3 separate regions of the Homo sapiens genome follow, and all the other regions are linked to region 1. The links come from fine-mapping of genetic effects on gene expression. A gene starts in region 1. Each other region holds a variant in brackets. All regions are shown on one strand. Distances are between the middles of the regions. Region 1 holds the start of ZNF124 (zinc finger protein 124). Region 2 has its middle 26 kb from the start of LINC02897. Region 3 has its middle 15 kb from the start of LINC02897.

What was found. PIP is the estimated chance that this variant, and not a neighbour inherited with it, causes the effect.
Region 2: its variant is the best candidate, but not a certain one, in a credible set for the expression of ZNF124 in visceral fat (GTEx, PIP 0.68).
Region 3: its variant is the best candidate, but not a certain one, in a credible set for the expression of ZNF124 in putamen (Braineac2, PIP 0.84).

Annotation. Positions count from the first base shown.
Region 1 is chr1:247,166,795-247,177,332 of GRCh38, forward strand. It overlaps ZNF124 (zinc finger protein 124), which reads right to left and starts at 5,226. Exons shown (of 4, transcript NM_001297568.2): 1 at 5,054-5,226. The coding sequence starts at 5,083. RefSeq lists a silencer at 8,693-8,987.
Region 2 is chr1:247,132,766-247,143,303 of GRCh38, forward strand. It overlaps a transcript of ZNF124 not described here. Among named protein-coding and RNA genes, the nearest start is that of LINC02897, 26 kb to the left of the region's middle. The variant T/C (reference allele first, on the strand shown) is at 3,712.
Region 3 is chr1:247,121,659-247,132,196 of GRCh38, forward strand. It overlaps a transcript of ZNF124 not described here. Among named protein-coding and RNA genes, the nearest start is that of LINC02897, 15 kb to the left of the region's middle. The variant C/T (reference allele first, on the strand shown) is at 6,629.

The DNA.
Region 1 (10,538 bases):
AACAAGCTACAAATGTTCTTTATAACTATTAATGCAGAAATCCTCACTTAAATACCAACAAACCATATTTAGCATCATACTAACGCAGAAATCCTCACTTAAGTACTCACAAGCCATATTTAGCAGCACAGTAAAAGGATTATACACCAAAACCAAGTGAGATTTATCCCTAAAATAAAATGGTTCAATATATGAAAAATCAATCAGTGTAATGTATGACATTTGCAAAATGACTGAAATATCGTAGCTATTGCAACGGATGCAGGAAAAGTATTTGGCAAATTATTAAGACCCACTCATGATAAAAATACACAATAAACTAGGACTACAAGGAAACTACAGTATGAAAAACCAGCACTAACATCACCATCAATGCTGAAATACCAAAACAAACAAGCAAAAAAACCCTTTTCTCCCAAGATCAGGAAAGAGCGGTAGAGAACCTCTGCTTTTATCACTCCCATTCAACACAGTATTGGAAATCCTGGCCACAGTGATCGGGCAAGGTTGCTGTACAGATTTAGCATTAATGTGCCAAATGCAGGCAACAGAAAACAGCACAGACTTACCCACTCTAACAAATTCTTCATCCTGCAGGAAACAAACTGATGTTTTGGTTAATTTTTGTAATTCACCAATTTATGTACCACACTTTTGTGTGTGGAAATGTATTCACTTTCTGTAATCATAAAGGAAGAGAGATTTTTCCTATTTCTCTTCCCTGGTAGCATTCCTGATTAAAAGCCCTAGAATTTCATTTGAAACTACCCAAAAGAAGAGACGAGACCTCAAAAAGTTACCACATACACTCAGGGGAATGAAAATAAAATATATCAAAAAAACTCTTCTAAACATTGGCTTGGGCAAAGAACTCATGACCAAGAACCCAAAAGCAAATGCACAAAAACAAAAATGAACAAATGGCACCTAATTAAATTAAAAAGCTTCTGCACAACAAAAGAAATAATCAGCAGAGTAAACAGACAACCCACAGAGTGGGAGAAAATCTTCACCAACTATGCATCCTACAAAGGACTAATATCCAGAATTCACAAAAAACTCAAATCAGCAAGAAAAAATTCCATCAAAAAAGTAGGCAAAGGACATGAATAGTTCTCAAAAGAAGATATACAAATAGCCAATAAATATGAAAAAATGCTCAACATCACTATCAGGGAAATGCAAATTAAAACCATAATGAGATACCACCTTACTCCTGTAAGAATGGCCATAATCATAAAATAAAAAACAATAGATGCTGGGATGCTGGTGTGGATGTGGTGAACAGGGAACACTTCTACACTGCTGATGGGAGTGTCAACTAGTACAACCGCCATGGAAAACAGTATGAAGATTCCTTAAAGAACTAAAAGTAGAACTACCATTCAATCCAGCAATGCCACTACTGGGTATGTACCCAAAGGAAAAGAAGTCATTATATGAAAAAAACACGGCTGGGCGTGGTGGCTCATGCCTGCAATCCCAGCACTTTGGGAGGCTGAGGCAGGTGGATAACCTGACATCAGGAGTTCGATACCAGCCTGGCCAACATGGCAAAACCCTGTCTCTACTAAAAATACAAAAAAAATTTAGCTGGGCGTGATGGTGCATGCCTGTAGTCCCAGCTACTTGGGAGGCTAAGGCATGAGAATCCCTTGAACCCAGGCGACGGAAGGTTGTAGTGAGCCAAGATCGTGCCACTGCACTACAGCCTGGGTAACAGAGTGAGACTCTGTCTCAATTAAAAAACAAACAAACAAAAACACTTGCACACGCATGTTAACAGTAGCACAATTTGCCACTGCAAAAATATGAAACAAACCTAAAATGCCCATCAACCAATGAGGGGATAAAGAAAATGTGGTGGAATACTACTCAGCCATAAAAAGGAATGAAATAATGGGCTTTGCAGCAACTTGGATGGAAATGGAGGCATTATTCTAAGTGAAGTAACTCAGGAATGGAAAACCAAATATTCTATGTTCTCACTTATAAGTGGGAGCTAAGCTATGAGGTTACAAAGGCATAAGAATGATATAATGGACCTTGGTGATTTGGGGGCAAGGGTGGGAGGGGGTGAGACTGCATATTGGGTACAGCGTACACTGATAAGGTGACAGGACCAAAATCTCAGCAATCACCACTAGAGAGCTTATCCTTGTAACCAAAAACCACCTGCTACCCCAAATGTATTGATATAACATTAAAAATTTTTTTAATTAAAAAACTAAATATATATATAAAGTGGATTTAAAATATCTACATATATTTAAAATATCCACTTCTTTCTTTGCCTCTTTGTAAATATTTTATCTTTAAAGCTCTATTGATGAAATACATTTTATGTTTACCTAAGGCACCAATAAATGAACAAAGCTTTGCAAGAGGACAGCCCAGGGAGGAGCAGCGCTAACTGGAACACAGATATGTTTGACTCACATGTCAAGTAAGACCATCTCTCAAGCAGGAGATTCCCTGGTCCCCGGTCTCCTCATTGGAGAGACCACGTACTCAAGGACCAACCTCCCAGCGCAATGCACTGTGGCCCACTGTGTGCCTAAGGTGCAGTTTGCTTGGCAGGTTTTTGTGTCATCTTCCTGGGAAGAAATTTTCTTGTTCTTTAAGGTTGTTTTTCTCCCTTCACAAGTGTGAAAGAATCCAGAGGGCAGGAATCATTTCTGTCTCTCCCTCAAAATACCAGCATTGGATTGGATGACACCAGTGTCTCTCCCAGTGTCCCCACTGTGTCCTCCCACCCCATCCTGCTCAGGGAAGTACTCAATGCCCACCCTCCCCCAGAAACCTGTGCCGTGTCCCCACTGTGCCCCAAATGCATTTTGCTTTTCAGGTTCCTGCCTCACTGCGGGGCGGGGTTTCCTTGTACTTTGGAATAGCTGTTCTCCCTTCACAAGCATGAGACAATCCAGAGGGCAGAAATTCTTTCTTCCCTCAATACCAGTATCCGACTGCCTGACCAGCATTTTGTCTCTAAGGAGTGATAACGGGGGTAAGAGAAGAAAAAAAAATCTAAGTCCTAGTGGATTAGCTTTTTAGAGGAAGAGTATAGAAGAGTATCCCAGGAGACTCCTCTCGGTCCCAGGGGATTCATGCCATCCAGCTGCTCCTCTGAGAGGCTCCACCCCTAAACCTCACCTTGTCTTCTGGGAGAAGAGGACCCAACAGCTGACATTCACTATTTATGACACTCCAAGAGACAGGGCCAGTGTGGGCACATTAGGTCATCCTCAAACAGTTTTGAACCCAGGACCCAGAAAAGACAGGAGGGTGGCTGAGGACACAACACCACGTGAAGGTTCCAAAGGGAAACCTCCATCCAAAGACGTTTGTGAGTGTGCCTAGGGAAGACAAAAGGAGGAGAGGTACAAAGAATTTTTTATAGTGGACTAGATCAGGTGATTATTCTCTGTTTTCACAAGGAATGTTCAGAAACAGCTCCTCACTGCTCAGTGAAAACATGATAAACAATTACATTACTGCATCTGGTTCAAATGCACAATAAAGAACAAATAATTAATAATGTTGTAAATTGGAGAGGTGAAGTTGGAGTTTGAGAGTATGAGGAAGAAACTGGAAATTTAGAATTTTACTGCAAGTTCTAGAAGTTAGGCTGGGGAATACGGTCATGGATTTGAGACCCTGCTTGCCTTACATTTGGGAAATGCAGGGGAAACCAGTACCCTTGTGGAAATAATTAAATAGGAAGAAATTAGACTGAAGTTGTAGCAGGGCAAGCTGCAGACAAAACCCCTCAGACACCGAGTTAAAGAAGGAAGGGCTTCATTCTGCCGGAAGCTTTGGCAAGACTCACGTCTCCAAAAACCCAGCTCCCCAAGTGAGCAATTCCTGTCCCTTTTAAGGGCTTACAACTCTAAGGGGGTCCACGTGAGAGGGTCGTGATCGATTGACCAAGCAGGGGGTACATAACTGGGGGCTGCATGCACCGGCAATCAGAACGGAACAGAACAGGACAGGGATTTTCACAGTGCTTTTCCATACAATGTCTGGAATCTATAGATAACACAACCGGTCAGGTCAAGGGTCAATCTGTAACCAGGCCCAGGACGCGGCGCCGGGCTGTCTGCCTGTGGATTTCATTTCTGCCTTTTAGTTTTTACTTCTTCTTTCTTTGGAGGCAGAAATTGGGCATAAGACAATATGAGGGGTGGTCTCCTCCCTTAAGTGATGATGGTGCCCTGAGTTCCTCACCAAGAAAACCTAAAGGTACTTCATGCCTTTCTTGTAATTAACTTGAAGGGAAAGAAAACTTAACCCCAAATCAGCAATTTACCTCTGATTACATAACCAGGAACCATCCACCTAAATAATCCGAATAACAGAACTACATAATTATAACCAATCAGTTATTAAATTGGGGTTGCTTTGGGCTGGGCGGGGTAATCCCAGCACTTCGGGAGGTTGAGACCAGAAGTTCAAGACCAGCCTGGGCAACACAGGGAGACCCCCCCCCCGCCCCACCCGATCATTAAAATAAAAAATAAATAAATTTGGTTTGTTTCCTTACACACTTTACAGAAGCCTTTCCATCAAGACCGTCCGGTGGCCCACAAACCAAAAACCGTGGCTGGGTGCTCCCCTACTCATGAATCGCTGTTTGCTCAAACTCTGTAACGCTTTAATTAAACCTCAGTTTAATTTTTAACAGGATTAAGGAGGGACTGGAAACGCCAGTGGCCACAGCTCCTCGCAGGCGCGAGCCCGCACACCGCGCTGGGCCTCTCCCCTGAGGCGCCTCGGGTCTCACTGCAGGATCCCGAGGAGCCGCGGGGCTGCGGGCGCGGGCCGGGGAGGGAAGCTGCTTCGGGCAGGACGGAAGTCGCGGTGCAGAGACGGGACCGGAGCCCGGGGTGCCGCTGCCCGCCCAGCTCTGCCGGGCGCCAGAAAGGACCGAGGGCCGCGCCGCGCCGCGCCAGCAGGGACCCGGGTCCGCCCTCGGGAGCCGACCGCTGGGAGCCCGGGGCCCGGGGCCGCCACAGCCCCTTCCCTTCTCCAGACCCCCGGCGGCGCAACTCACCATTTCCCAGCTTCCGGGGTGTCCCGACATCCTCCCTGCGAATCCCCCAGTACATGCAGGTCACAGGAGGGCCCCGGCTGCGGCAGAGCCTCCTGAACCGCCGAGAGTGAAGGAGAAGCGCAGGGCTACTGACCGAGACACGCACGTGCGGGCACGAGAGACAAAGGCCGGGCACACCCGGAAGCCGCCTCGGGTTTTCTAGCGGAGCGCCGGATTAGGCAGTCCCCGCCCCGGTGCCCCTGATTGGGTAGGGCCTCAGGCCCCGCCCCCTCAGACTCTTAGTGACAGGTGACAGCTCCCGCGCGTGTCTGAATGAGGCAGCGTTCTGGCTACAGCTCTTCTCCAAGAGGGTTTCCTCTCTGGGTTGGGACCCAGCCTTGCCTAGGGGACATTCATTTATATACACTTAACCTTGTATACAATGTTACATTCATTTGTGAATAATATATATGATATTTAAAATAGGAAACAATATAATAATAATTCTTTTAAAATTTCAGACTTATTAACCTTCATGGCCTCTGGTCTTCTGAGGAAGCAGTCTGAGGAGCCCGAGTTTTGAAAAGGGAAGCAATCCTCCAAGGCTGCGATTTCCACAGAAATCACATGTGAGCCACAGGTGTCATTTTAAAATTTCTAGTAGCAACAGAAACGAGGAATAAACAGGTAAAATTGATTGCAATACTTTATTTAACTCAATATATACAAAATATTATAATTTAAATATATGATAAATATAATATTAATGAAGTATTTTTTGTTGTTCTGTTTTTTGGTACTAAATCTTTCAAAGTCACTCTGCGTTTTAAACTTCCAGCATGTACCGATTCAGACCAGCCACATTCTAGGTGCTAAGTAGACCCCTGTGGGCAATGACTGTCACACTGAAGTGCAGTTTTGAGGGCTCTGGTTCCCCTGACCTCAGGGAGTGAAGGGCCCGAACCCCTCTTTTCTGCTAGAGGTGAGGGAATGCCCTCCTTCTGCTAACATCTCTCCTCAGGCCCAAGGGTGGCAGAGACAGTGCCCAGAGAGAGAAGTGGGCTGCAATAAAGAAGTATCTAGAGGGAGTCTACTATTTCCCACCTGCTCTTGCCAGGGGCCCAGCCTCTTCTATAGATAAGACAGTGAAAAAAAGATGAGGGGCCCCAGGAGAAGAAAACCCATGTCTTCAGATTTGTCCACAGCCTTAACCTCAGGACTTTAGATGTAGAGGGAATACATTAAAGACAAACTTCTCATTTTGCAATTTGGCTTTGGCCCTAATGGTCAGGCTGTGGTTTTCTGTTTCCTCCTGTGGTGTGGAATTTAAGTGTGTGAGTTTAAGCACAAATCACATGCATGTCTACGTGCACTTCTGTATGGCTCAACACCGTCTAACCAGAAATCCAACTTTACATAAAGGGAAAAGGAAATCAGTACATACAGGGTGCCTTGTGTTTGCCTGGTAAATTGCAATCAACATGTCATTGAATCCTGGCATCCTGTCTGCACTAGGTGTACGTATTACCTATTGCTTCACAGTAAAATTCCCCAAAACGTATTAGATTGAGCTGGTCCACCTTCTAGGCTGGGCTCAAGTGAGCCATTCTTCTGGTCTCTGCTGGGCCCTTTCAGGCACGTGTGGTCAGCTGCTGGTTGACTAGGCAATGCTGCTTCTGAGGGTGAGCTGCCTGTCAACTGTGGCACTTTGGTTTTCCTCCCTATAGTATCTCATCCTCTAGCAGGCTAACATGGACTTGTTATTATGGAGATGACAGGGTTGTGAAATAAAAAGCAGAAGCATTCAAGAGCTTTTGTGCCTCGGCCCCAAACTGGCACATGGTCATATTCACAGCTTTCTACTGCCAGAGCAAATAAGGCCAGTGAGATTCAAGGTTTGGGAAACAGATTCTGCCTCTCAATGAAAGCAGCTATAAAAGCACATCACAAAGGGCATAAATACAGGAAGGGATGAAGAGTTGCTGCCATTTTTGCAATCAGTATCATGCCTTTTCTTGCAGATGAGGTTTATATAACTTTCCAAGACAAGGAAGTTGTGCAAAGCCTCACAGCTACTAAGAGGCTGGGCTGGGACCAGGATTAACTTTTCGTGACTCCAAAGCCCATGCACCTCTGCAAGCCACACGAATCAAGCAGCTTCTCTAAACCTTTGAAGTCCTGGAAAGTAACTCTTCTGCAATAGAAGCAAGAATCCTGTGAGATTGGGATCCATCTAGTACTCTTCACCATTTGGAACAACTGCCTCCAGAGAATGCTTCTGACACATCTTGGAAGAACGTGGAATAACTTGAGGAAATGGTCGATTTGCTAATTTAGGAAACCAATGTTCGATATTACATATTTTTTATTTCTTTTCATAGGATAAATTTAAAAGCACAGATGACGCACTCCACATGAACGCAAATCCTATTCATCCCTTTTTGTTGTTTGTAGGCTATTTATGATTTTCAACAAAGACTAAATCAAACCACTGTGTCTGAAATAACCTCTTACTCTGAAAGCAAGTGACATGAAAATAGACCTGCTGAGAAAAATTTCTTCCTGCTGCAATTTAACGAAACAGCTGACTACAATTTGAAGCCATTCTTTGATTTTTTTTTTTTTTTTTTTTTTTAAGATGGAGTCTCGCTGTGTCATCCAGGCTGGAGTGCAGTGGTGTGATCTCGGCTCACTGCAAGCTCCGCCTCCCGGGTTCACGCCATTCTCCTGCCTCAGCCTCCCGAGTAGCTGGGACTACAGGCGCCGGCCACCATGCCCGGCTAATTTTTTTGTATTTTTAGTAGAGATGGGGTTTCATCGTGTTAGTCAGGATGGTCTCCATCTCCTGACCTCGTGATCAGCCCGCCTCGGCCTCCCAAAGTGCTGGGATTACAGGCGTGAGCCACCGTGCCCGGCCCATCCTTTGATTTTTAACAAGGCAAGCTTGTTTTCCAAGACCTCAAATAGATCATGTGAGTGTCAGGGCTACTATATTGACTCAGAAGGTGGACCATATCCTCTGTTTGGAGATGGAGTGGTGAGAGGGCCTGCACCAGCATGTGAAGACCTTAGGTCCATAGGTGAGATTCAATCATCAGGTGTGGTGTTTTAGGGTCCTGATGTTTATGCAAAAGTTATGTGTATATTACTAAAGGTAAATTGTAGAACATTACAAATAATCATATATAAACCAAAAATGTCAACTACAATTGTCATTATGCATTATTATTCTAAGTATTTTTACCACAATTAGAAGTAGTAGCAGTTGTTGCTGCTGCCGCTGCTGTTGTAGGAATGGAGATGAAAACATGGAATAAAGCTCTGCTGCCTGGTCATTCTGCTGCTCCTACGGCTGCAGATGTGCTAGTTCTGCGCAGACTTTAGACTTCTGTTGTGAAGCTGTAACTTAAGAGACTTTCAGTGCTCTGCTGTGGCAGGAAAAAAGTTTGAGTCAAGACAGAACAACAATTCTGTGAATTTGAAGGTGGAGGGTAGGATGGTTCTGGGGCGCAGTTGAAGGGGAAGAAGTACACATCACTGAATGAAGGAGTGGAAGCCTATGGTGAATGGCAGGGTTTGGCCATGAAGCAAATCAGATTTGGATTTTACGGACGGTCACTCAGTGAAACTGACACACCTGCAAAGCGGGAAATGGAGGACGAATAAACAGGTGATGTGTTCCAGCAGCAGACAGGAGGGCCTTCTAAGAACACACCTGCTCCTTTACCCAGGACCTCTTCCTACAACTCCAGCAGACATTCTCATGTAGAAACCCACAATGTGATTTCATCACATTCTGACTCCACATTCTGACACCACATTCTGACTCCACATTCTGGCTGGTACAGTATCCTTTTCTCCATTCTCTTATCTTCCCCTTCCTCATTTCATTATTGCACATAAAGCATCTGGGGTAGGCACACAAGCATATTGCTATTTTTGTTTGCTTGTTTGTACTAAATGACATGTGTTGATCCGCAGCCAAATGAGACGGGGCAGAAAAATACTGGCCCCGTGAAGACTGTTTCTCCACCAGTGGCTGCTCACTCAGCTCTTATCTCTGTATTTCAGGACTTAAACAACAATAACAAAAAACCATAATACCCTTGCATAGATTGTTCAATTGGTGAATTTCAATGTTTTTAATATAGCATTGTAAAACCAAAAACAATTTCATAACTTTTTTATCTACGTAGTTGTTACACATAGGGCAAATCTGTATATAGGACTATGTATATAGGACTATATATATACGCGTGTGTGTATGTGTATATATATATAGTCCTATATATAGCATATAGCATATATATTTATATATGTATCTATACTATATACATATGTATGCATGTATACTATATACATATGTATGCATATATACATATATACTATATATACACATATATAGTATATATACACTACATATATACTATACACTACATATATACATTACTATATATGCTATATATATACACTATATATATAATATATATAAACCTATGTATATAGGACTAAATGACACTTGAAAGAATGAATCTCAAATACTTTTCCCTTCAAATCCACTGTCTGTTTAAGTATACATTTTGCATATAATGAAAAAATACATAAAAATTAAAATGTAAGGTTTATCTCACTATCCAGTGTATCAGTTGGACCAAAAATGAGGAAAAAGAGGCATCTTGTCTGCAGGAAGTTCTCAATTCTCCTGGGACCCCCGAACCACCTGCGCCCCCCAAGCAGACCCCGTTCTTGGCCTGTTGCCAGTGGCAGTGCATCCTGATGAGGCTTCCACGTCTTGGCCCAGGAGGCACAGGGAGGGTAGGAGGTTGTCTGTCTCACAGCCAGGCCAATATCCCTGACCCAGGACCCTCTGGAAGAAGATTCCCAAGGTCCCCGTCAGCTTTTGGAAGGGTTATGCCATTCTAGAGAAATTATAAATGTTCTTGGGGGTTGACCCATAGGTGAGCTGGGCATCCCTGTGCTCTTGGGAGCTGGAGCAGGCAGGAGGCCCATCCTCCTGGGCACAGCCGCCATGGCTGCAGACCCAGGCATCTCTGCACTCTGGAGGGCTCAGGAAGGTTCCCCCACCCCCACAGGCTTGGAAGTGCTCGCTCCCACTGTCTGGCTTCTCCTCACTCTTGGCATCCACTCCAATCACAGAGAAAAGGGGAGTCTGGGCCCACGCACCTATCAACCCATCACCTAGGTATTAAGCCCAGCATGCATTAGCCATCTCCTCTTTGACTTTTAACATGAAATTCTCATGATCATTTTATGTTATCAATGACCAGTCATAGGTTTTAAAATGCTGGCTGTTACTTGTGTATAATAACAATGACATTTTTATTAATAAAACAAAACACGGGATACTTTTTTTTCAAAGAACACATTAATTGCATGTAAAATTGCTTGTGGATTTGTGTAAATGGTTTTTCATTCTAGTACACTCCTCTTTTCTTCAGAGGTGTCGATTAAGCTCAAGACTTTATAATCAGTCTTTCGTTTCTTG
Region 2 (10,538 bases), 34 kb before region 1:
TCCTGTTCTGTTCCGTTCTGATTACCAGTGCATGCAGCCCCCAGTCACATACCCCCTGCTTGCTCAATCAATCACGACCTTCTCACGCAGACCCCCTTAGAGTTGTGAGCCCTTAAAAGGGACGGAATTGCTCACTCAGGGAGCTTGGCTTTTGAGACGCAAGTCTGCTGAAGTTCCCAGCTGAATAAAGCTCCTTCCCTCTTTAACCCGGTGTCTGAGGAGTTTTGTCTGTGGCTCCTCCTGCTACAAAAGGAATTGCTAACTAGAATAACCAGTTTAGAGAAGAACACAAATGACCTGGTGGACCTGAAAAACACAGCATGAGAACTTCATGAAGCACACACAAGTATCAACAGCTGAATTGACCAAGTGGAAGAAAGGATATCAGAGTGTGAAGACCACCTTACTGAAATAAGACATTCAGAAAAGATGAAGACTGCCTTACTGAAATAAGACATGCAGACAAGAAGAGAGAAAAAAAAATGAAAAAGAATTAACAAAGCCTCCAAGGAATAAGGGACTTCATAAAAAGACTGAACTTATGATTGACTGGAGTACCAGCAGGAGACAGGGAGAATGGAAACAAACTGGAAAACACACTTCAGGATATTAGCCAGGAGAACTTCCCCAACCTAGCAAGACAGGCCAACATGCAAATTCAGGAAATACAGAGAACACCATTAAGATACTCCTCAAGAAGAACAACCCCAAGACACATAATCAGCAAATTCTCCAAGGTCAAAATGAAGGAAATACTGTTAAGGGCAGCCAGATAGAATGGCCAGGTCACCTACAAAGGGAAGCCCATCAGACTAACGGTAGACATCTCAGCAGAAACTACAAGCCAGAAGAGATAGGGAGCCAATATTCAATCAATATTCAATATTCTTTTTTTTTTTTTTTTTTGAGATGGAGTCTCACTCTGTCACCCAGGCTGGGGTGCAGTGGTGCGATCTCAGCTCACTGCAACCTCCACCTCCCAGGTTCAAGCGATTCTCCCACCTCAGCCTCCCAAGTAGCGGGGATTACAGGCATGCACCACCATGCCCGGCAAGTTTTTTGTGTTTAGTAGAGACAGGGTTTCATCATGTTAGTCAGGCTGGCCTCAAACTCCTGACCTCAGGTGACCCACCCACCTCGGCCTCCTAAAGTGCTGGGATTATAGGCATGAGCCACGGCGCCCAGCCTCAACATTCTTAAAGGAAAGAATTTTCAACTCAGAATTTCATATTCAGCCAAACTAAGTTTCATAAGTGAAGGAGAAATAAAATCCTTTCCAGACAAATGCTGAAGGATTTCGTTACTACCAGGCCCGTGCTGCAAGAGCTCCTGAAAGAAGCACTAAATACGGAAAGAAAAAACTGGTACCAGCCACTGCAAAAACACACCAAAATATAAAGACCAATGACACTATGAAGAAACTGCATCAACTAATGGGCAAAATAACAAAATAGCATCACGACAACAGGATCAAATTCACACATAATAATAATAACCTTAAATGTAAATGGGCTAAAAGCCCCAATTAAAAGACTTGGACTGGCAAATTGGATAACGAGTCAAGACTCATCAGTGTGCTGTATTCAGGAGACCTATCTTATGTGCAAAGACACACATAGGTTCAATATAAAGGGATGAAGGAATATTTACCAAGCAAATGTAAAGCAAAAAAAAGGCAGGGATTGCAATCCTAGTCTCTGACAAAACAGACTTGAAACCAACAAAGATCAAAAAAGACAAAAAAGGGCACTGCATAATGGTAAAGGGAACTATTCAACAGGAAGAGCTAACTATTCTAAATATATATGCACCCAATACAGGAGCACCCAGATGCATAAAACAAGTTCTTACAGACCTACAAAGGGAATTACACTCCTGTGTAATAATAGTATGAGATTTTAACACCCCACTGTCAGTATTAGATCAATGAGACAGAAAATTAGCAAGGATATCCAGGACTTGAACTCAGCTCTGGATCAAGTGACCTAGTAGATGTCTAAAGAACTCTCTACCACAAATCAATAGAATATACATTCTTCTCAGTGCCACATGGCACTTATTCTCAAATCAACCACATAATTGGAAGTAAGACACTTCTTAGCAAATGCAAATGAACTGAAATCATAATAGTCTCTCGGACCACAGTGCAATCAAATTAGAACTCAGGATTAAGAAACTCACTCCAAACCACACGATTTCATGGAAATCAAAAAACCTGCTCCTGAATGACTGCTAGGTAAATAATAAAATTAAAGCAGAAATCAAGAAGTTCTTTGAAACCAATGAGAACAAAGAGACAATGTACCAGAATCTCTGGGACACAGCTAAAACAATGTTAAGAGGAAAAATCATAGTACTAAATGCCTACATCAGAAAGCTAGAAGCAAGAGCAAACTATTCCAAAAGCTAGCAGAAGACAAGAAAGAACTAAGATAAGAACTGAAGAAGACAGAGACACAAAAAACCCTCCAAAAAAATCAACAAACCCAGGAGCTGGTTATTTGAAATAATTAACAAAATAGACCACTAGCTAGACTAATAAGAGAGAGAAGAATCAAAAAGATACAATAAAAAATGATAAAGGGAGTTATCACCACTGACCCCACAGAAATAAAAACTACCATCAGAGAATACTATAAACACTCAATGCAAATAAACTAGAAAATCTAGAAGAAATGGATAAATTCTTGGACTCCTACCAAGACTAACCCAGGAAGACGTCACATCCCTAAGTAGACCAATAACAAGCTCTGAAATTGAGGCAGTAATTAATAGCCTACCAATCAAAAAAAGCCCAGGACCAGATGGATTCACAGCAGAATTTTACCAGAAATACAAAGAGGAGCAGATACCATTCCTTCTGAAACTATTCCAAACAATTGAAAAGGAAGGACTCCTCCCTAACTCGTTTTATAAGGCTAGCATCATCCTGATACCAAAACCTGGCAGAGACACAACAAAAAAAGAAGACTTCAGGCCAATAACCCTGATGAACGTCAATGCAAAAATCCTCAAGAAAATACTGGCAAACTGAATCCAGCAGTACATCAAAAAACTTATTCACCACGATCAAGTTAGCTTCATTACTGGGATGCATGGCTGGTTTAACATGCAAATCAATAAACATAATCCATCAGATAAAGAGAACCAAAGACAAACACCACATGATTCTCTCAATATATGAAGTAAAGGCCTTCAATAAAATTCAACATCCTCTCATGTTAAAAACTCTCAATCAACGAGGTATTGATGGAACATATCTCAAAATAATAAGAGCTATTTATGACAACCCCACAGCCAATATCATACTAAATAGTCAAAAGCTGGAAGTATTCCCTTTGGAAACTGGTATAAGACAAGGATGACCTCTCTCACCACTCCTAAGTTCTGGCCAGGACAATCAGGCAAGAGAAATAAAAGGGTATTAAAATAGGAAGAGAGGAAGTCTGTTTGTAGATGACATAATTTTATATTTGAAAAACCCCATCATCTCAGCCCCAAAACGTTTTGAACTGATAAGCAACTTCAGCAAAGTCTCAGGATACAAAATCCCTGTGCAAAAATCACAAGCATTTGGTTACACCAATAGGCAAGCAGAGAGTCAAATCATGAATGAACTCCCATTCACAATCACTACAAAGAGAATAAAATACCTAGGAGTACAGCTAACAAGGGATGTAAAGGACCTCTTCAAGGAGAACTACAAACCAC[T/C]GCTCAAGGAAGTAAGAGAGGACACAAACAAATGGAAAAAATTCCATCTTCATGGATAGGAATAATCAGTATCACAAAAATGGCCACACTGCCCAAAGTAATTTACAGATTCAGTGCTATTCCCATCAAACTACCATTGACATTCTTCACAGAATTAGCAAAAACTATTTAAAATTTCATGTGAAATTGGCCAGGCACAGTGGCTCATGCTTGTAATCCCAGCACTTTAGGAGGCCAAGGCGGGTATATCACTTGAGGTCAGGAGCTTGAGACCAGCTTGGCCAACATGGTGAAATTCCATCTCTACTAAAAATACAAAAATTAGCCAGGCGTGGTGGTGTGCACCTATAATCCTTGCTGCTGGGGAGGCTGAGGCAAGAGAATCACTTGATCCCAGGAGTTGGAAGTTGCAGTAAGCCAAGATCATGCCACCGCACTCTAGCCTGGGCAACAGAGTCAGACCCATCTCAAAAAAAAAAAAAAATTATATGGAGTCAAAGAAGACCCAATATACCCAAGACAATCCTAAGCAAAAAGAACAAAGCTGGAGGCATCATGCTACCTGACTTCAAACTATACTACAAGGCTACAGCAGCCAAAATAGCATGCTACTGGTACCAAAACAGATATATAGACCAACGGAGCAGAACAGAGACCTCAGAAATACCACCACACATCTAAAACCATCTGATCCTCGACAAACCTGACAAAAACAAGCAATGAAGAAAGGATCTCTGATTCAGTAAATGGTGCTAGGAAAACTAGCCAGCCATATGCAGAAAATGGAAACTGGACTGCTTCCTTATACCAAAATTAACTCAAGATGGGTTGAAGATTTAAATGTAAAATCCAAAACCATAAAAACCCTAGGAGAAAACCTAGGGAGGCCAGGTGCAGTGGCTCGTGCCTGTAATCCCAGCAGTTTGGGAGGCCAAGGTGGGTGGATCATGAGGTTAGGCATTCGAGATCAGCCTGGCCAACATAGCGAAACCCTGTCTCTACTAAAAATACAAAAAAAAAAAAAAAAAAAAAAAGAAAGAAAACCTAGGGAATATCACTCAGGACATAGGCGTGGGCAACTTCATGGCAAAAATGCCGACAGCAATTGCAACAAAAGCAAAAACTGACAAATTGGATCTAATTAAACTAAAGAGCTTATGCACAGCAAAAGAAACTGTCCTCAGAGTGAACAGGCAACCTACAAAATGGGAGAAAATTTCTGGAATCTATCCATCTGACAAAGGTCTAATATCCAGAATTTACAAGGAACTTAAATATATTTACAAGAAAAAACAAAAAACTCATCAAAAAGTGGGCAAGGGATATGAATAGACACTTCTCAAAAGAAGACATTTATGCATCTAACAAACACATGAACAAAAGCTCAACATCACTGATCATCAGAGAAATGCAAATCAAAACAATGAGATACCATCTCATGCCAGTCAGAATGGTGATTATTAAAAAGTCAGGAAACAATAGATGTTGGTGAGGCTGTGGGGAAATAGGAACGCTTTTACACTGTTGGTGGGAATGTAAATTAGTTCAACCATTGTGGAAGACAGTGTGGCGATTCTTCAAGGATCTAGAACCAGAAATACCATTTGACTCAGCAATCCCATTACTGGGTATATACCCAAAGGAATATAAATCATTCTACTATAAAGACACGTGCACACGTATGTTTATTGCAACATTATTTACAACAGCAAAGACATGGAACCAACCCAAATGCCCATCAATGATAGACTGGATAAAGAAAATGTGGTGTATATATATATGTGTATATATATACCATAGAACACTATGTAGACATAAAAAGGAATGAGATCATGTGCTTTGCAGGGACATGGATGAAGCTGGAAGTCATCATCCTCAGCAAACACAGGAACAGAAAACTAAACACTGCACGTTCTCACTCATAAGTGAGAGCTGAACATTGAGAACACATGGAAACAGAGGGGGAACAACACACACCAGGGGCTGTTGGGGGTTGGGGGGTGAGGGGAGGGAACTTAGAGGACAGGTCAATAGGTGCAGCAAACCACCGCGGCACATGTATACCCATGTAACAAACTCACATGTTCTACACGTATCCCGTTTTCGTTTGTTTTAGAAGAAATAAAACATAAAAATTCTGGACTAATTTAAAATGAACAATTCTCCGATCAATCACATGGCAATTCCTTGCCCCAAGAGTGCAGAGAAAGAAAGGTACATACATAGACCCAAAACTTACTAGAGTAGAAACCCATAAGCACATCTTCATGAACCAGTACATCTGTAGGAAAATTGAAAGTGTAATTGGCAAATTGTTTAAAGCTGAGTGTGAACATGATTGACAGTAACAAATAACTGGAAATGTCAAGCTGGGAACTGCTTAGGGCAAACCTGCCTTCCGTTCTACTCAAAGTTAACCCTCTGCTCACTGAGATCAATGCATATCTGACTGCCTCATTTTGGAGAGGCTAGTCAGAAACTCAAAAGAATGCAACCATTGTCTCTTATCTACCGATGACCTGAAAGCTCCCTCCCGACTTCAAGTTGTCCTGCTTTTGCTTTGAGTTGTCCTGCCTTTCTGGACTGAACCGATGTTCATCTTACATATGTTAATTGATGTCTCATGTCTCCCTAAAATGTGTAAAACCAAGCTGTGCTCCGATCACCCTGGGCACATGTTGTCAGGACCTCCTGGGGTTGTGTCATGGATGCGTGTCCTCAACCTTAGCAAAATAAACTTTCTAAATTACTGAGACCCATCTCAAATTTTCACGGTTCACACCACTATGTAATACCCTTGTTGTTTTAAATCTTTATTGGTTTAAATCTGTTTTGTCAGAAACTAGGATTGTAACCCCTGCTTTTCTGTTTTCCATTTGCTTGGCAGATTTTTCTCCATCTCTTTATTTTGATCCTAGGTCACTGCATGGGTCTCTTGAAGGCAACATACCATCAGGTCTTGCCTTCTTATGGAGCTTGCCATTGTGCGCCTTTTAAGCAGGGCATTTAGCCTGTTTACATTCAAGATTAGTATTAATATGTGTGGATTTGATCCTGTCATGTTGTTAGCTGGTTATTATGCTGACTTGTTTGTGTGGTTGCTTTATAGTGTCACTGATCTGTGTATTTAAGTGTGTTTTTGTATTGGCTGGTAGCAGATTTTTCTTTCTATATTTAGTGCTCCTTTCAAGATCTCTCATAAGGCAGGTCTGGTGGTAATGAACTCCCTCAGCATTTGCTTGTCTGAAAAGGATCTTATTTCCCTTTCACTTAGGAAGCTTAGTTTGGCTGGGTATGAAATTCTTGGTTGAAGATTTTTTTCTTTAAGAATGTTGAATATAGGCCCTGAGTCTTTTCTGGCTTATAGGGTTTCAGCTGAGAGGTCTGCTGTTAGCCTGATGGGGTGACCTTTGTAGGTGACCTGCCCTGTATAGCTGCCTTTAACAGTCTTTCTTTTATTTTGACCATGGAAAATCTGATTATTGTGTGTCTTGGGGATGATTTTATTGTGTAGAATCTTGCAGGGGTTCTCTGGTTTCCCTGAATGTGACTGCTGGCCTCTCTACCAAGGTTGGGGAAGTTTTCGTGGATGATATCCTAGAATGTTTTCCAACTTGTTTGCTTTCTTCCCATCCCTTTCAGGGATGCCAATAATTCATAGATTTGGCCACTTTACAAAATACCATATTGCTCAGAAGTTTTGTTATTTTTTATTCTTTTTAATTTTTCTGACTGTCTTATTTCAGAGAGCCAGTCTTCATGTTCTGAGAGTCTTTCCTCCACTTGGTCTATTCTGCTGTTAATACTTGTGACTGCATTATGAAATTCTTGTAGTGTGTTTTTCTGCTCTGTCAGAACCATCAGGCTCTTTTTTATATCAGTTATCTTGTCTTTCAGCTCCAGTGATTCTTAGTTTTTTTGGATTGGGTTTTGCATTTTCCTGAATCTTGATGATCTTAATTCCTATCCATATTCTAAATTCCATTTGTCATTCCAGCCAGCTCAGCCTGAGTAAGAACCCTTGTTGAAAAACTGGTGTGGTCATCTGGAGGACATACAACACTCTGGCCATTTGAGTTACTGGAGTTCTTTCATTGGTTCTTTCTCATGTCTGCAGGTGGGTGTTCCTGTAACTGCAGTGTAGATTGAGTACAGTCAGTACACTTTTTTTTCTGGATGTCTTCGCAGAGCCAAGGCTTTGTGCAGGGTCTTCATTTGTAGCTGACTTGTCTTTGGTCTCACAGAGGGGAATGCTAGCAAGGTGTTTTTGGTGTTGGAACTTCGGGATGTGATCCAGTAGGTGGTGCTTAGGCATACTGGTTAGTTGGTAGGCTCTTGCTTGGTCATGTGGCTCCCCTATATTTTCTGACAGTTGCAGTCATGCTCCCTCTCAATGTTCTGAAAGTGTGGGCTTCTCTCCCACTTGAATGCTGGCTATAAATTGTGGCTTGGCACTCTTGGGCTGCCCACCACAGCTCTGGGGCACTCTCAGGGCTTATGTTCCTCCCCTGGCTTGGAGGCAGCAGAGGAAGGGACCTTAATAGTGGTTGTGGCCAAAGGTCTTTTGCTTGTCTCCTGGGGGCTCCACCCAAGAGGAGCCGGTTAGCAATTGCTAAGTGCAATCAGCCCAGAACGGAGGGTCTGTGCTGTGGGACCAAGCCCAGGGTTTCCTATCTGGTGACAAGCAGGGGGAGTGGGTGGAACCTGTGGGAGATGAACTGGTCTCCTCTCCTTGGGTCAACTGCAGTTTGTTGTAGGTGTGGATAAGGCACTTATGGTATTTGTTCATTCATTTGTCTGAGGATAGCAAGGGCAGTTCCACTGCAGACAGCGGTAGCAAGGCTTTTGTTTGCTCCTGGGGGCTCCACCTCCAAGAAATGCAGAACCATAGTTACTGGGGGTGTTCAGCTGGTGGGTGGGGCACCTGCACTGCTGGCATAAGCTTGGGGTTCTGCTTGTTGGGGAGCAATGGGATGAAGGCTCACAGGGAGAAAAGACTAGTCTCTCGGTATGGTGGCTGTGGTGGTATGCTGTTAAGCTTGGGTGTAGCTCTCAGGTTCTTTGTTTCTTCCCCAGACCAAAGGCAGCAGGGATAGAACTATTACTGTGGCAATGGCAGAGGGGCTGTCATATGCCTCTGGGAGCCTCTCCATGGGGAAACTCTGGGCCACTACTGGTGGGTATGCTCAGCCATGGGAGAGGTGACTGTTCTGTGTTCATGAGCTGGGGGCCCTACAGCAGCAAAACTGAGAAGACCTGTGATGCCTGCCATAGTGGATCCCCAAGGGTCCGCACTGGGTGCAGCAAGCAGCCCATATCTCAGTCCCCAGGAGACCACCTGCTGCCAGTTCTGAAAAGCCTGGTGACCTCTATGGTAAGTCTGAGGCCATTTATCAAGACCTAGTTCAGACACAAGCACAGTAGGTCCATTCTCTGCTGACCTGGGAGCAGCTCTCTTAGCTTGCCAGCTCTGGGGGCCTCTGTGCTGCAGTGCAGAACTTCTACACCATGGACTCCCAGGTGGCCTGGGTTCCCTGCTGAGGGCTGGGAATCTCAGCCACCCTGACTTGTGCCAGGGTCCAGCCCTGGCTGGAGAAGTCCAGAGCTCCTTCTGGGAGAAAGATAGGACCAGCCCTTTTTTGGACCAAAGGTAACTCAGCCTATCTATAGATGAGATGAAGCTTGACCTGGGGGTCTCCTGACCCTATTCAGCAAAGAAAACAGGTCTGGGAGTGAAAACAAAGACTTGCTGCTTCTCAGATTCTTCTGGATGACCAGCAGTGACAACTTTAGACACACCATGTTAATAACAGAACCTGTGGTGGTTGTAGAAAAGGAATTTGAACAATATACTGAAAATGGTAAACCCAGTTTTCTTTAAGGCTGATTACTGACAAATTTTGTATTTCATATAAGACATCTGATGTCTTTTGGCTGTCTTATGACAGTCATGCATTTCTGTAAATCAGAAAATATTATTAGGGTGTAATCATTCATATATGTTTGTATATTAAAAAGAGTAGCAAAATGAATATATATTTATATCTTCCCCACTTGAACTCAGAAAAGGCTGTAGCTCTTCACTCTCCCAGGCCGAGTCCTCAGAAGATTGATATTCACCAACCTTTAATAGCATTCTCTCTGGAGAAATGCTTCTATTTTTTCAGTTTGATGAAATCACCATGCCATTGTTTTTACTTTTCATTTTCTTACACAGAATCTAAGACAAGGTATATTAAATGCTTAATGATCCTATTCTTCACCTGGCTCATATCATTTACCTAATTTTAAACTTTCTTCTACTCTAAAAATTTCAATTCATCTTATGTATTGTAGAAGATTTTAAATCTAATACAGGTATTGTCTTTTTTTTTTTTTACATATATTCTATTGGCATTTTACACTGGGATCATGGAATATTTCATTATGTAAATTATTTAATTTTTATGTAGAAAAAAGAAAATTATTTTGGTGTTTGTTTTGTTCTTTGCTCTATAATTTCCATTACATACTGATTAGATAATTTTTTGAGTATTTTAAATTTTAGGTAATTATGCATTTTATCCATAAAGAATCTGCATGTGAGAGAGAGAGCTATTTTCTCCTCACTTCTATTTCATCTCCATCCTGACCTCCCCAGAATCCTCAGCTCTTTGTGTAGTTGGATAGCAGTTTATAATTCCAGTAAATGGGCCTAATTCAATAATATACCACAAATCAGTTTGAAACCAGGACATGCCTTCAAGACACACCCAAATGCCTATATATATAATAATACTAAGTTACAATTGATGTAAAAAATAAAATTACAAAAGGATTGTTAAAGT
Region 3 (10,538 bases), 45 kb before region 1:
TCTGTCATCCAGTCTGGAGTGCAGTGGCATGATCTTGGCTCACTGTAACCTCCGCCTCCCAGGTTCTAGCAATTCTCCTCCCTCAGCCTCCCGAGTAGCTGGGACTACAGGTGCCTGCTGCCATACCCGGCTAATTTTTTGTACTTTAGTAGAGACGGGGTTTCACCATGTTGCCCAGGCTAGTCTTGAACTCCTGAGCTCAGGCAATCCACCTGCCTTGGCCTCCCAAAGTGCTGGGATTACAGGCGTGAGCCACGGTGCCCAGTGACCCAGAGTTTTCTCTGTTGTAGCATGACAAATATAAGGATAGCTGATATACTTAATACTCATTTTTATTGTGTGAGTCAAATGAGTTATTGCATCTAAAGGAAACCAGTGAAGCATGCCATTTGACTTTGGATTATTTCAAGACAGCACACTGAGCCCACATCCACTGTTTCATTAATATTTAGATAGGACAGAAAAGCAAATGTTGATAAGAACAAATACTACACCACTTAATAAATAATGAATGGTATGAATAATGGAAATTTGATGAATCAGATGAATCAGTACTTATTTAGTTCATACAATGTGTTAGTCATTATTCTAAGTGATTTATACCTATACACTTAATACCTAATCGTTTAACATGTATAACACAATGATTTATGGAGAATGACACATTGATAATCATATTAGGTGGCATTAAAACCATAGAAATAAAAATGTTCTGGTATATAACACAAATGAACACAGGAAAGTTAAATAACTTGATTAAAAAGTGTGACTTCAATAGCAAAGACATGGATTCAACCTAAATTCCCACCAACAGTGAAGTGGATAAATGCCCATCAACAGTGAAGTGGATAAAGAAAATGTGGTACATTTCTTTACCATGGAATACTATGCAGCCATAAAAAAGTGAGGTCTCCCTATGTGTCCTAGGCACTGGAGTGCAGTAGCTATTCACAGGCACACTTCAGCCTCAAACTCGTGGGCTCAAGCAATCCTCCCACCTCAGCCTCCCAGATAGCTGAGATTTCGGGTGTATGTCGCCATGCCTAGCCCTGGGAGTTTTGCAGTAACACCCATTGAAGTGCACAAGGCGATGACCTTTATGTCAGATCTTTCAAAATAGTTCAAGTAACAACGGTCATCCCCAGTTATGTTCTCATGTGTTTCACGGTGCTACAGAGAGATGTTTCTGCTGATGGTGGCCACGTGGTTGAGTTCTGATCAATGAGACTTAGAAAGAAGTGCCTGGGGAGAATGGACTTCTGTAAATTAAAAAGCAATGGCTTCCAACCTAATTCCCCATGACCTATCAGCTTACTATTTCCTCCTGGTTGCTGTTTGGAATGTGGTTTGATGCCTGGAGGTGGGACAGCCAACTTGGACCATGAAGGAATAAGCATGAACACAATAACTAAGCATAGACAATGTCAGAGAGAGAACATGAAAACAAACTTGTATCTCATAAGATCACTGGACTATTTCATCAATCATGGGCTGCTACCTCTTCAACAGTGTACATGAGACACAATACACATATTATGTTCTTTTTTTTTTTTTCTGAGACGGAGTCTCGCTCTGTCACGCAGGCTGGAGTACAGTGGCGCGATCTCGGCTCACTGCAATCTCCGCCTCCCGGGTTCATGCCATTCTCCTGCCTCAGCCTCCTGAGTAGCTGGGACCGCAGGCATCCACCACCACGCCCGGCTACTTTTTGTATTTTTAGTAGAGATGGGGTTTCACCGTGTTAGCCAGGATGGTCTCGATCTCCTGACCTTGTGATCTGCCCGCCTCGGCCTCCCAAAGTGCTGGGATTACAGGCGTGAGCCACTGCGCCCGGCCTACGTGAGCCGTTTTTTGTTAATAGCTTTATTGGGATCACACACGTATCGAACATTGGTTTCCTAAATTAGCAAATCGACCATTTCCTCAGGTTATTCCAAGTTCTTCCAAGATGCGTCAGAAGCATTCTCTGGAGGCAGTTGTTCCAAATGGTGAAGAGTACTAGATGGATCCCAATCTCACAGGATTCTTGCTTCTATTGCAGAAGAGTTACTTTCCAGGACTTCAAAGGTTTAGAGAAGCTGCTTGATTCGTGTGGCTTGCAGAGGTGCATGGGCTTTGGAGTCACGAAGTTAATCCTGAGTCCCAGCCCAGCCTCTTAGTAGCTGTGAGGCTTTGCACAACTTCCTTGTCTTGGAAAGTTATATAAACCTCATCTGCAAGAAAAGGCATGATACTGATTGCAAAAATGGCAGCAACTCTTCATCCCTTCCTGTATTTATGCCCTTTGTGATGTGCTTTTAGCTGGGACTACAGGCACCCGCCACCACGCCCGGCTAATTTTTTGTATTTTTAGTAGAGACGGGGTTTCACCGTGTTAGCCAGGATGGTCTTGATCTCCTGACCTCATGATCCGCCCGCCTCGGCCTCCCAAAGTGCTGGGATTACAGGCGTGAGCCACTGCGCCCGGCCTACGTGAGCCATTTTTTGTTAATAGCTTTATTGGGATCACACACGTAAAATTTAGCCATTTAAAATGAATGATTTTGTGGCTTTTTTTTTTTTTGAGACAGAGTCTCGCTCTGTCGCCCAGGCTGGAGTGCAAAGGTGTGATCTTGGCTCACTGCAACCTCCACCTCCCAGGTTCAAGCGATTCTCCTGCCTAAGTCTCCTGCGTAGCTGGGATTACAGGTGCAGGCCACCACATGTGGCTAATTTTGTATTTTTAGTAGAGACAGCGTTTCACCATGTTGGCCAGGATGGTCTTAAACTCCTGACCTTGTGATCTACCCGCCGCGGCTTCCCAAAGTGCTGGGATTACAGGCGTGAGCCACCACGCCCGGCTCTGATTCTGTGGCTTTTAGTACATCCACAGAGTTGCCCAACCATCATCACAGTCAATTTGAGATGATCACCCCATAAAGAAATTCTGCATCCTGTAGCAGCCAACTCCTTTCCCCCCAGCCTATGCAACTTTCTGTCTAATCTACTAATCTACTTTCTGTCTCTATTTGCCAATTCTGGACATTTCATATAAAAATAAAATCACGCAATATGTGGGGTTTGTGTGTGTGTGTATGTGGCTTCTTTTACTTAGCCAAATACTTTCAAGGTTCATTCATGTTGTAGTATGTATCAGCATTTCATTCCTTTTGTTTTAGAGACAGGGTCTCGCTCTGTCACCCAGGCTGCAGTGCAGTGGTGTGATCATGGCTTACTGCATCCTCGACCTCCCCAGGCTCAGGTGATCCTCCCACCTCAGCCTCCCAATAGCTGGGACTACAGGCACACACCGCCATGCCCGGCTATTTTTTTATTTTTTTGCATTTTTAGTACAGACGAGCTCTCATCATGTTTCCCAGGCTGGCAACTCCTGGGCTCAAGTGATCCACCTGCCTACGCCTCCCAAAGTGCTGGGATTACAGGCATGAGCCACAGCGCCCGGCCTTCATTCCTTCTTATGGGTGAATAAGATTTCATTGCAAGGATAGACCACATTTTATCCTCTGACGGACACTGGAGACTTTTTCACACATTGGCTGTTACGAATGCTGCTGCTGTGAACATTTGTGTACTAGCTTTTTTGTGGATGTTTTAATTTCTCTTGTGTATCTGTACCTGGGGGTGGAGTTTTTGGGTCAAATGGTACCTCTATGTTTGAATTTTAGAGGGGTTGCCAGACTGTTTTCCAGAGTGGCTGCGCCATTATGCAATCCCACCAGCAGGGTGTGAGGGTTCCAATTTCTCCGTATCTTCACCGACACCTGTTTTTGTCTTTTTTTTTTTTTTTTTTTTTTTTTTTTTTTTGAGGCAGAGTTTCCTCTTTCGCCCAGGCTGGAGATCTCCACTGACTGCAACCTCTGCCTTCCCGTTTCAAGGGATTCTCCTGCCTCAGCATCCTGAGTAGCTGGGATTACAGGCGTCTGCCATCACACCCGGCTAAATTTTGCATTTTTAGTAGAGACGGGGTTTCACCACATTCGCCAGGCTGGTCTCCAACTCCTGACCTCGTGATCGGCGCCGGCGCCGATTAAAGGCGCCACCGCACCCAGCCATCTGTTTATTTATTTCATTTTAGTCATCCTACTGGGAATGCAGTGGTATCTCATTGAGTTTTTGGTAACAACTTTATTGAGAGAGGATTCAAACAGCATAGAATTCACCCATTTAAACTACATGCAGCAATGTGGCTGGATCTCATATTAATTAGTCCAAGTAAAATAATCCAGATAAAAGTAAGGACATTTGAATAAAAGCTATTTTCACTGGGGAAAAAAAGTAAATATTGTACAATTGTATTCATATAAAATTCTAGAAAATGTAATAGTCCAGGCACAGTGGCTCACACCTATAATTCCAGCACTTTGGGAGGCTGAGGTGGGCGGATCATGAGGTCAGAAGTTCGAGACCAGCCTGACCAACATGGTGAAACCCGTCTCTACTAAAGATACAAAAATTATTATTATATTGTACCCTATTTTAAATATCATATATATTATTCACAAATGAATGTAACATTGTATACAAGGTTAAGTGTATATAAATGAATGTCCCCTAGGCAAGGCTGGGTCCCAACCCAGAGAGGAAACCCTCTTGGAGAAGAGCTGTAGCCAGAACGCTGCCTCATTCAGACACGCGCGGGAGCTGTCACCTGTCACTAAGAGTCTGAGGGGGCGGGGCCTGAGGCCCTACCCAATCAGGGGCACCGGGGCGGGGACTGCCTAATCCGGCGCTCCGCTAGAAAACCCGAGGCGGCTTCCGGGTGTGCCCGGCCTTTGTCTCTCGTGCCCGCACGTGCGTGTCTCGGTCAGTAGCCCTGCGCTTCTCCTTCACTCTCGGCGGTTCAGGAGGCTCTGCCGCAGCCGGGGCCCTCCTGTGACCTGCATGTACTGGGGGATTCGCAGGGAGGATGTCGGGACACCCCGGAAGCTGGGAAATGGTGAGTTGCGCCGCCGGGGGTCTGGAGAAGGGAAGGGGCTGTGGCGGCCCCGGGCCCCGGGCTCCCAGCGGTCGGCTCCCGAGGGCGGACCCGGGTCCCTGCTGGCGCGGCGCGGCGCGGCCCTCGGTCCTTTCTGGCGCCCGGCAGAGCTGGGCGGGCAGCGGCACCCCGGGCTCCGGTCCCGTCTCTGCACCGCGACTTCCGTCCTGCCCGAAGCAGCTTCCCTCCCCGGCCCGCGCCCGCAGCCCCGCGGCTCCTCGGGATCCTGCAGTGAGACCCGAGGCGCCTCAGGGGAGAGGCCCAGCGCGGTGTGCGGGCTCGCGCCTGCGAGGAGCTGTGGCCACTGGCGTTTCCAGTCCCTCCTTAATCCTGTTAAAAATTAAACTGAGGTTTAATTAAAGCGTTACAGAGTTTGAGCAAACAGCGATTCATGAGTAGGGGAGCACCCAGCCACGGTTTTTGGTTTGTGGGCCACCGGACGGTCTTGATGGAAAGGCTTCTGTAAAGTGTGTAAGGAAACAAACCAAATTTATTTATTTTTTATTTTAATGATCGGGTGGGGCGGGGGGGGGGTCTCCCTGTGTTGCCCAGGCTGGTCTTGAACTTCTGGTCTCAACCTCCCGAAGTGCTGGGATTACCCCGCCCAGCCCAAAGCAACCCCAATTTAATAACTGATTGGTTATAATTATGTAGTTCTGTTATTCGGATTATTTAGGTGGATGGTTCCTGGTTATGTAATCAGAGGTAAATTGCTGATTTGGGGTTAAGTTTTCTTTCCCTTCAAGTTAATTACAAGAAAGGCATGAAGTACCTTTAGGTTTTCTTGGTGAGGAACTCAGGGCACCATCATCACTTAAGGGAGGAGACCACCCCTCATATTGTCTTATGCCCAATTTCTGCCTCCAAAGAAAGAAGAAGTAAAAACTAAAAGGCAGAAATGAAATCCACAGGCAGACAGCCCGGCGCCGCGTCCTGGGCCTGGTTACAGATTGACCCTTGACCTGACCGGTTGTGTTATCTATAGATTCCAGACATTGTATGGAAAAGCACTGTGAAAATCCCTGTCCTGTTCTGTTCCGTTCTGATTGCCGGTGCATGCAGCCCCCAGTCACGTACCCCCTGCTTGCTCAATCGATCACGACCCTCTCACGCGGACCCCCTTAGAGCTGTAAGCCCTTAAAAGAGACAGGAATTGCTCACTTGGGGAGCTCGGTTTTTTGGAGACGTGAGTCTTGCCAAAGCTTCCGGCAGAATGAAGCCCTTCCTTCTTTAACTCGGTGTCTGAGGGGTTTTGTCTGCAGCTTGTCCTGCTACAACTTCAGTCTAATTTCTTCCTATTTAATTATTTCCACAAGGGTACTGGTTTCCCCTGCATTTTCCAAATGTAAGGCAAGCAGGGTCTCAAATCCATGACCGTATTCCCCAGCCTAACTCTTCTAGAACTTGCAGTAAAATTCTGAATTTCCAGTTTCTTCCTCGTACTCTCAAACTCCAACTTCCCCTTTCCAATTTACAACATTATTATTTGTTCTTTATTGTGCATTTGAACCAGATGCAGTATTGTAATTGTTTATCATGTTTTCACTGAGCAGTGAGGAGCTGTTTCTGAACATTCCTTGTGAAAACAGAGAATAATCACCTGATCTAGTCCACTATAAAAAATTCTTTGTACCTCTCCTCCTTTTGTCTTCC[C/T]TAGGCACACTCACAAACGTCTTTGGATGGAGGTTTCCCTTTGGAACCTTCACGTGGTGTTGTGTCCTCAGCCACCCTCCTGTCTTTTCTGGGTCCTGGGTTCAAAACTGTTTGAGGATGACCTAATGTGCCCACACTGGCCCTGTCTCTTGGAGTGTCATAAATAGTGAATGTCAGCTGTTGGGTCCTCTTCTCCCAGAAGACAAGGTGAGGTTTAGGGGTGGAGCCTCTCAGAGGAGCAGCTGGATGGCATGAATCCCCTGGGACCGAGAGGAGTCTCCTGGGATACTCTTCTATACTCTTCCTCTAAAAAGCTAATCCACTAGGACTTAGATTTTTTTTTTTCTCTTACCCCCGTTATCACTCCTTAGAGACAAAATGCTGGTCAGGCAGTCGGATACTGGTATTGAGGGAAGAAAGAATTTCTGCCCTCTGGATTGTCTCATGCTTGTGAAGGGAGAACAGCTATTCCAAAGTACAAGGAAACCCCGCCCCGCAGTGAGGCAGGAACCTGAAAAGCAAAATGCATTTGGGGCACAGTGGGGACACGGCGCAGTTTTCTGGGGGAGGGTGGGCATTGAGTACTTCCCCCAGCAGGATGGGGTGGGAGGATTCAGGAGATGAGAGGGAGGGTGGACATTGAGTACTTCCCCCAGCAGGATGGGGTGGGAGGATTCAGGAGATGAGAGGGAGGGTGGACATTGAGTACTTCCCCGAGCAGGATGGGGTGGGAGGATCAGGAGATGAGAGGGAGGGTGGACATTGAGTACTTCCCCCAGCAGGATGGGGTGGGAGGATTCAGGAGATGAGAGGGAGGGTGGACATTGAGTACTTCCCCCAGCAGGATGGGGTGGGAGGATTCAGGAGATGAGAGGGAGGGTGGGCATTGAGTACTTCCCCCAGCAGGATGGGGTGGGAGGATTCAGGAGATGAGAGGGAGGGTGGACATTGAGTACTTCCCCCAGCAGGATGGGGTGGGAGGATTCAGGAGATGAGAGGGAGGGTGGACATTGAGTACTTCCCCCAGCAGGATGGGGTGGGAGGATTCAGGAGATGAGAGGGAGGGTGGGCATTGAGTACTTCCCCCAGCAGGATGGGGTGGGAGGATTCAGGAGATGAGAGGGAGGGTGGACATTGAGTACTTCCCCCAGCAGGATGGGGTGGGAGGATTCAGGAGATGAGAGGGAGGGTGGGCATTGAGTACTTCCCCCAGCAGGATGGGGTGGGAGGATTCAGGAGATGAGAGGGAGGGTGGACATTGAGTACTTCCCCGAGCAGGATGGGGTGGGAGGATTCAGGAGATGAGAGGGAGGGTGGACATTGAGTACTTCCCCGAGCAGGATGGGGTGGGAGGATTCAGGAGATGAGAGGGAGGGTGGACATTGAGTACTTCCCCCAGCAGGATGGGGTGGGAGGATTCAGGAGATGAGAGGGAGGGTGGACATTGAGTACTTCCCCGAGCAGGATGGGGTGGGAGGATTCAGGAGATGAGAGGGAGGGTGGACATTGAGTACTTCCCCCAGCAGGATGGGGTGGGAGGATTCAGGAGATGAGAGGGAGGGTGGACATTGAGTACTTCCCCGAGCAGGATGGGGTGGGAGGATTCAGGAGATGAGAGGGAGGGTGGACATTGAGTACTTCCCCCAGCAGGATGGGGTGGGAGGATTCAGGAGATGAGAGGGAGGGTGGACATTGAGTACTTCCCCGAGCAGGATGGGGTGGGAGGATTCAGGAGATGGGATGGTCTGACTTGACCCTTGAGTCAGCCATGTCCGTGCTCGTCAGTACTGCTACTCGTTTGTCACCTTGAAAATACTTGTTCACTTATTTTAACTTCAGTTTTTCGCTGATTGAAAAATACATTTTATCAGTACAGCTTGAGAGATAATATTTTCAAAAGGCCAAGAAAGAGGTGTATATCAGAAAAATATTAGATATCTAGTCATATATTTCATTTGTTAAAAATTCTTAAATGGCTTTTTTCTTGCCCAGAGGGAGTGTAGTAAGTTTCACAGGTTTGTTCTTTTCTGGGGGTGGTTTCAACCCGAATTCCAGGGCTTAGCTTTGGGAATGCTACCAGGGAAAAATAGGGACACTGTCTTCCATTATGGCTGCAGAAAAATACGTTTTCACAAGAAAGTATACTCACTAACAGAAGCTCACTAAAGCATCAGTTCCACCTTTGTGCCGAGCGGAGATTCTGTGACAGTGGATGACTCTGTTTCCTGTTACCTGGATGTCCAAGTTTAATGGCAAATCTGTGGGTGGGGACTTGGCATTTTTAGATGTGTTAACATCGAAATAATTTCTTTATGAAATAATATGTTATCATGTAAATAATTACATGACTTGTTTATTGTATGAAAGGAATACTTCTGCTTTCCCTGTTGAGGTATGAAATGTAAGTGCCTTGCAATTTTATTCCCTCCAACATACATAAAAGCAGAGTTTGAGTGATTTTGCTGGACTCTTCAAACACTGAGTATTTTTTCATTTGAAACAAAGTGGGGGCCAAGCGCGGTGGCTCACGCCTGTAATCCCAGCACTTTGGGAGGCCGAGGTGGGCAGATCATGAGGTCAGGAGTTCAAGACCAGCCTGACCAACATGGTGAAACCTATCTCTACTAAAGATACGAAAAATTAGCTGGGCGTGGTGGCGTATGCCTGTAATCCCAGCTACTCGGGAGGCTGAGGCAGGAGAATCGCTTGAACCCAGGAGGTGGAGATTGCAGTGAGCTGAGATTATGCCATTGCACCCCAACCTGGGCGACAATCAAAACAAAACAAACAAACTAAAAAACTCATAATAAGCATGTGAATCCTTCACCAGCAACCAGGTTCTCTCATCAAAATTGACTAGAAGGATGGTGTGACCCATGGAGAGAAGGAAGAACAGTGTGGTGCTGCGGCCCACCTGAGAGCCAGGCGGGGAAGGGGAGCCTCCTCCTCCAGCCCAGGGAGGCAGTGAGTGAGTGCGCTACCCAGCTGGGGAAACTGCTATTTCCATGGAGCTGTGCAACCCACGGATTGGAAGATCCCACTCGCAAACCCACGCCACCGAGGCCTGCCGTCCCAACCCTGGAACGCCCAGATTCTTACAGCCTTTCAGCTGGAATCTACTTAAGCCTACCCAACTCCCAGGGGGAGGGGCAACCAGCACTGGCCGTGGCTGCCTGCTGTCTAAGCCATTTGAGTTCCTTGGGGAGGGGCAGCAGCCAGTACTGGGACTCCAACTGCCTAACGTGCTAAGCTCCCTGGACGGGAGGAGGTTGGCACCCATTTCTATAGCTCCAGGCTGCACTTTTCCCCTGCTTTAGCCAGGGAGGCTGTACAGCTAGGTCCCAAGACCTGTCCCTACAGCCCAATACACCGGCTGTGGCAGTTTGCAGCCAGAGTGCCTCTTCAGGCCTAATCCCTTCTTCATTGGGTGGGGCTTCCCTGGAGGGTCTCCAATAACTCCAGCCAGATGCTCAGGGACAGAATTTGGATCTCCCTAGGCCTGAGCCCCTAGGGGGAGGGGTGGCCGCAGTCTCTGCTGACCAGCAGACTTAGCCTCTCCTCCTGGTAGTTCTGAGGAATCTTGGCAGCCTAGGTGAGTGGGTTTCCCCCCAGTGAAGCACACCCTCTCCACCAAGGGACAAAGTCTTTCATTAAACGGGTCCTTTTCCCTGTGCCACCCAACTGGGTGAGACCCTCCAACAGGGGTTGTCAGACACCCTATTCAGGAGTGATGCTACTGGCATCCGGTTGGTGTCCCTTGAGGTAAGAAGTCCCAGAAGGAGGAGCAGGCACCCATCTTTGCTCTTCTCTAGCCTCCTTGAGTGGCATCTCCAGGCATGGGAGTGAATCAGATGAATACGCCTGAAGTGAACCCCCAGCAAACTGAGGCAGCCCTACAGAAGAGGGACCT